2 linked regions of the Homo sapiens genome follow. The protein of the gene in region 2 purifies or fractionates together with the protein of the main gene of each other region. This does not show direct contact. Each region holds a gene or a part of one and is shown on either strand. Other genes may lie near its edges.

Region 1 (3,500 bases), on a different chromosome or scaffold from region 2:
ATGGTGAAACCCCATCTTTACTAAAAATACAAAAATTAGCCAGGTGTGCTGGCATGTTCCTGTAATCTCAGCTACTCAGGAGGCTGAGGCAGGCGAATCACTTGAACCCAGGAGGCGGAAGTTGCAGTGACCTGAGATCGTGCCACTGCACTCCAGCCAGGGTGACAGACGGAGACTCTGTCTCAAAAAAAAAAAAAAGGAGGAATCTTTTGAAAAATAGAAATCCCCCCTCATAATTTTAATCCCACCATAATAGGTTTAACATATATCTCACTGGACATTTTTCTATATACATAGGATTGATATAGGATTATAATTTCCTTTATAAAACTGTGATCATGCTACATATAAATAGTTCTGCAACTGCATTTTACCCACAATGCTACATCCTGACCATACTAAAGGACAAATTATGCATAACTGCTTTGTCTTTGTACACTTTATGCCAGAGCGCAAGGACTTCCTTCATCTGACTTGTGCCCAGCCACACAGTAACGGGCACGGCTGGTAGGGCTGAGTCAGCTCCATGCTGACAGTGAGTCAATCCCCCAGGCGCAGTATGGCTGCAGGCAGTGTGGGAGACCCCATCTGTCTCCACCAACCCTGGGTAAGGTCAGCCGAGTTTGCAGTAGGTGGATGACCTTCCTAGACCTGAGATGGGGCTATTTAAAGGAACGTGACACCGAGCCAAAAATGTGGAGGCTGCAGAGCCAGCTTCCACAGAGAGGACCAGATCGGCCTTCCCTGGGATCTGCTTCCTCGGGCAAAGCAAACCTTGCAGTCACTGCCACTTGGCTGCTGACTGATATTATATTTTGCATTAGGAAATATACTTTTCATCAACATAACCAACTGTGACAGCAACTATACTGACATCTGTATAGCACTTCATACAATATTGTCTATAATATGAATACAACATCATTATATAATATATACAGGAATATCATAATATATAAATTATATCTGTTTATAATATTAGATATAATATAAACGAAATGTGTGTGTGTGTGTGTGTGTATAATTTTTTTTTTTTTTTTTTTTGAGACAGGGTCATTCTTCGTCGCCCAGGCTGGAGTGTGGTGGCGTGACCTTGGCTCACTGCAACCTTTGTCTCCTGGGCTTAAGTGATCCTCCCACCTCAGCCTCTCAAGTAGCTGGGACTACAGGTACATGCCACCATACTTGACTAATTTTTTCTATTTTTTTTTTTGTAGAGACGGGGTCTTGCCATGTTGCCCAGGCTGGTCTCAACCTCCTGGGCTCAAGTGATCCACCCACCTCAGCCTCCCAAAGGGCTGGGATTACAGGCCCATGTCCGACCTCTTTTTCTCTATATATATATTTGTGCAAAATATATAATTTTTTTTTAAAGAAATAGGTCTTGTTCTGTTGCCCAGGCTAGAGTGCAGTGGTGCATTCATAACTCATTGCAACCTGAACTCCTGGGCTCAAGAGATCCTTTTGCCTCAGTCTACTGAGTAAGTAGCTGGGACTAAAGGTGTGCACCCCCACACCTGGCTAATATTATGATTAAAATGTCATACATTTACATAATATTAAATATGTATTTATAGATAATAACAATATATACTATAATATTATACAATATTGTTATAATTCCCACTGAATTCTCAGCAGTGACTGGGGGTCAGACGTCTTCCCACCATGTGAGTGTCCCCTCCACTGGAACAGCTCAGGCTGGTACTGGATTTCCCATTGTCAAATTTTTCAAGACAGGAGCCTGTCAGTGACATGATACCAGCAGATTAAATCAACCACTCACCTCCACAGCAAATGATAGCAGCCACAAAAAGGGAGATATCACTGTCATCCAGTTCCAGTGCATTGAACTTCATGGCAAAATCAAACTTGGGTTCCATGATATCACAGAACGGTTTCCTTAGGCTTTTTAGGAATTCACGAGTTATAAACCCATTTCCATACGCTACCAGCATCCCGTCTTTGTTCATCACAGAAGACAGCATGGCGAATATGGCCTCATAAACTCCGTATTTTAGCAATGTCACTTGATCGTTCAGGTCCAAGTTTGCGAAGCCTGGGATGGCCTTGGCGAATTCCGTGAGCTCCGTGACGGTCTCCACTGACGTGCACTGGCAGCAGTGAAAGATGCGGACCTCCGCCTCCTTGTTCTGGATGCCATTGGCCACCAGCTTGGCCACCAGCGTCTTCTCAGCCATACACAGTGTCTCCATATCATGTATGACAAAAGGCTACAAAGGAGGACACCAAGGTAAGTCAGGTGATGTGGGATGCGCTATGCTCCCAGCTATCAGCTCACTAATGAGCAGCTCCTGCGTCCAAATCACCAAGCTCAGTGCCTCAGAGGACTCAAGATACCCGCGGAACATAGTCCTTACTCAACTTCAAAATCGGTTGGGGAAAATAAGACATTAATAGAGAACAAACAGTATAAATCAGTAAAATAATAATAGTCATCGCCTGACATTGGGTGGATTTCATCGCTAAGAAACTGAAGTACTGGGCTGGGCATGGTGGCTCACGCCTGTAATCCCAGAACTTTGGGAGGCTGAGGTGGGTGGTTTACCTGAGGTCAAGAGTTCGAGACCAGCCTGGCCAGCATGGTGAAACCCCGTCTCTACTAAAAATACAAAAAAATTAGCTGGGTGTGGTGGCGGGCGCCTGTAGTCCCAGCTACTCGGGAGGCTGAGGCAGGAGAATGGCGTGAACCCAGGAGGCAGAGCTTGCAGTGAGCCGACATTGCGCCACTGCACTCCAGCCTGGGTGACAGAGCGAGACTCCGTCTCAAAAAAAAAAAAAAAATTAGCCAGGCATAGTGTGTGCCTGTAACCCCAGCTACTCGGGAGGCTGAGGCAGGAGAATCGCTTGAACCTGGGAGGTGGACGTTGCAGTGAGCCAAGATCGTGCCACTGCACTCCAGTCTCCAGTCTGGGCGACAGAGCGAGAGTAAGACTCCGTCTCAAAAAAAAAAGAAACAAGAAACTGAAGTACTGATTTTGTCAAAACAAAACTAACGAGGACATTAGCAAAGCACCTTTAATATTCTTAAATATTCTCTGAACTAATGACTATTGCAAGAGGCTTAATTACGATCATTCTTAATTTTACCAGTATATGCACTTTAGGGGTGAACACCATTATTTAACGCTGCTCAATGAATACATTTGGCATGTAAATACATACAACTCAGAAAGGTGGCATCTATGTAGAAATCGGCAAACAAGCGTTGTGAAACTCTTTAGGGATAAAGTGGAAAAGCCTCGGAATGCCCTTGTTTCTCTCAGTGCAGGAAACTGAAACCTTCACTCGGTGCTCCATATTCTGGAGCAAGTGCCAACTCCCCACAGCCGTGCCTTGTGTGCTCCCATGCCATCTGCATGTAAACCCAGTGGCCTGCCATTTCCTGAAGATCTCGTGGTGGAAGAGGTGGCTGGCCATATTATTTGAAGCCAACATGCTCAGAAGGGATTACATGTGTGGGAGAGCCGGGGAAAATG
Region 2 (2,509 bases):
AACACATGAGTGGTACTATATAAAATAAATAGTAAGTGTAACCCTGAGTAGAAATCTATGAATTAGGAATTGGGGAACTGTCTCTGGATGAGAATAAGAGAAACAGAAGTAATATTGTAATGGCTTACCAAATGGAAATAAATGGATAAAGTATTACTAGCATTGATCAACAATAGTTATGAAGGGAGCTTGCAGGGTAGTTAGGCTGGAAATCTCACGGGGCTAAAAGCAGAACTTCTGATAAACTCTTGCCTTGCATATAATTTCTTCATTAAGGAGGAAGAGCAAACAGTGACAGGAGAGTCTGCTCTAGAGTTAGTTGTGAAAAGAGTTCACTGATCAGGTGTGGAGGAATGACAGAGGCCTTGGAGGAAAATGACCAGAGCATTTGCAAATTCACAAATATGACGGAAGGGGATACCAGGCAGAGTCAGATAAGTGCCCTAGAATTCAGAGAAAAAGTGGGAGTAAGCCCATGGACAGAGACACCACAATCAAAGTGGATTAAAGAGGGTCTTAAAACACAGAAATTTTAACATTTAGTAGGGTACATCAGAGGGAATGAAAACAGAGATCTAGAGAGTTACACATCACATTTTCCTGTGGCTATACAGAAGAATCTCTTATTGGTACAGAGTTTTTCCTTTTGAAAAAGTAATTTAGTTTTATTTCTAATTATAAAAGCTCAGATCTGTTTTTTGTTTTTTTTTTTTGAGACGAAGTCACACTCCGTCACTCATGCTGGAGTGCAGTGACATGATCTTGGCTCACTGCAACCTCTGCCTCCTGGGTTCAAGCGCTTCTCCTGTCTCCTGAGTAGATGAGATTACAGGAGTGTGTCAACGTGCCTGGTTAATTTTTTTTTTTTTGAATTTTTAGTAGATAGGGTTTCACCATGTTGGCCAGGCTGGTCTTGAACTCCTGACCTCCAGTGATTGACCTGCCTCAGCCTCCCAAAGTGCTGGGATTATAGGCATGAGCCACCTCGCCTGGCCAAAAGCTCAGATCTTAAAGGGGCATGAGCATATTGTAAAATGGCAGGTGCATAAAAATGAATACAGAAAAAGCAAACAGTCTTAAGTCAAATGACAGGGCCATGGAGGGTGGCTAAATCCCCACCTGAGCTCAGATGCCGGGCTTCTTCAGCAAGCTACAGTTTGAGCAGGTTGTTTGAAGAGCAGGGCTGCTTTTTTGAGTTTAGGATAGCAAGTGGAACTTCTCAGCCTGTTAAATGTTGACATTTCAGTGAATCCTGAAACTGAACATTCTATAGCAAAGGAAAAAACGATTAGGAGAGAAAGCCTAAGTTAAGGCCTCATTCAGTCAAAGTGTGTTACGTCAGGGAGACGAGTGTCTGTTATATTTTCTATACTCCTTAAATGTTGGAAATTTTTATAATTAAAAACATCTAAAACAAGCAGTCAAACCAAGAAACTAACTAAATTAAGCAGGGAGATAAAGTAAAAAGGGGAGATAGATTGCCTGGAGGTCTCTCTATCCTGAATATCCCAAAATTTCAAGAACACATCAGAAATTCCTCTACAGACAGTTCTCGGGGAGAAGGAACAAACACATCAGAGGGGATACCTCACACTGAAGCCACCGCAGATAAACATGGTTCTAGACCCCTCCCAATGCACATAGCACTTACATAGATATGGAATCAGGATCTTGTAAGTGAAGGTCACTTTTTTCCAAATCCCCAGCAAATATTTCAAATAAAATAGAATTTCCTTTTTTTTTTTTTTTTTCTTTAAGGGGCCTCACACACGTATTTGAATGTCTCTCATTCACTCCCATGTTCTTTTGGCAGTCAGAAGTATCAGTGCAAGTAAGTTCTAAAGGGGATGAGGGCACTTCATGGCTGCCTTCTATGGTCCAGGCTTGTACCTCTCATCACACTGCCATCCTAACAACCCACACAACAGGGACACTTGACCACGCACCTGCTAGAAAAGGTGGGGTGGGTGCCCAGGTCTACCCAACTTGGGAGTGTGTACTTTTCCCGCTATGTACTAGGCCCTTAATTCATGAAGCGCGAAATATGAGACAGATTCCTAAAACTCACACAATTTTGAAGAATGTATTTACCATCTGGTTCCCTATGGCCCTCAACCATTTTCACATGCTTATCTCAAGTCAGATTCCAAAGTATGCGGAGGGCAGCTGCTAATGACATATTTGTTAGTTTTAATTTTATTCTGCAGACATTATGCAGTTCTATAATATAAAATGAATACAATACTAAAATCTATTTCCTTTATTTACATGGTGTAACATTTCCAATAACAAACATTTCTAATCATGAAAGATGGTGTTAAAGCAGAAATATTGTCATGATTGAGTCAATGGGAGAACATAAAATATGCTGTATTTCATAATTTTTCCGTAAGAAAATGTCTAGTTTGTTTAAATGCAACAAATACTGTATTAGATTCACTTTATAAGCCATACACTCCTTCTTGTCTTTCTTTTGAACACATTCTGGAAGGCAGCTGTGAAGAACGGA

The links.
Region 1: the proteins of TIMM21 (region 2) and PPARA purify together in Homo sapiens (co-immunoprecipitation; one large-scale study listed by IntAct). This does not show direct contact.

The regions. Positions count from the first base shown.
Region 1 is NC_000022.11:46,230,526-46,234,025, reverse strand, and holds part of PPARA (peroxisome proliferator-activated receptor alpha), read right to left. Parts: intron 2,235-3,500; coding exon 1,787-2,234; intron 1-1,786. UniProt on the Homo sapiens protein: Ligand-activated transcription factor. Key regulator of lipid metabolism. Activated by the endogenous ligand 1-palmitoyl-2-oleoyl-sn-glycerol-3-phosphocholine (16:0/18:1-GPC). Activated by oleylethanolamide, a naturally occurring lipid that regulates satiety.
Region 2 is NC_000018.10:74,158,523-74,161,031, reverse strand, and holds the end of TIMM21 (mitochondrial import inner membrane translocase subunit Tim21 precursor), read right to left. Parts: 3' UTR 501-2,509; downstream 1-500. UniProt on the Homo sapiens protein: Participates in the translocation of transit peptide-containing proteins across the mitochondrial inner membrane.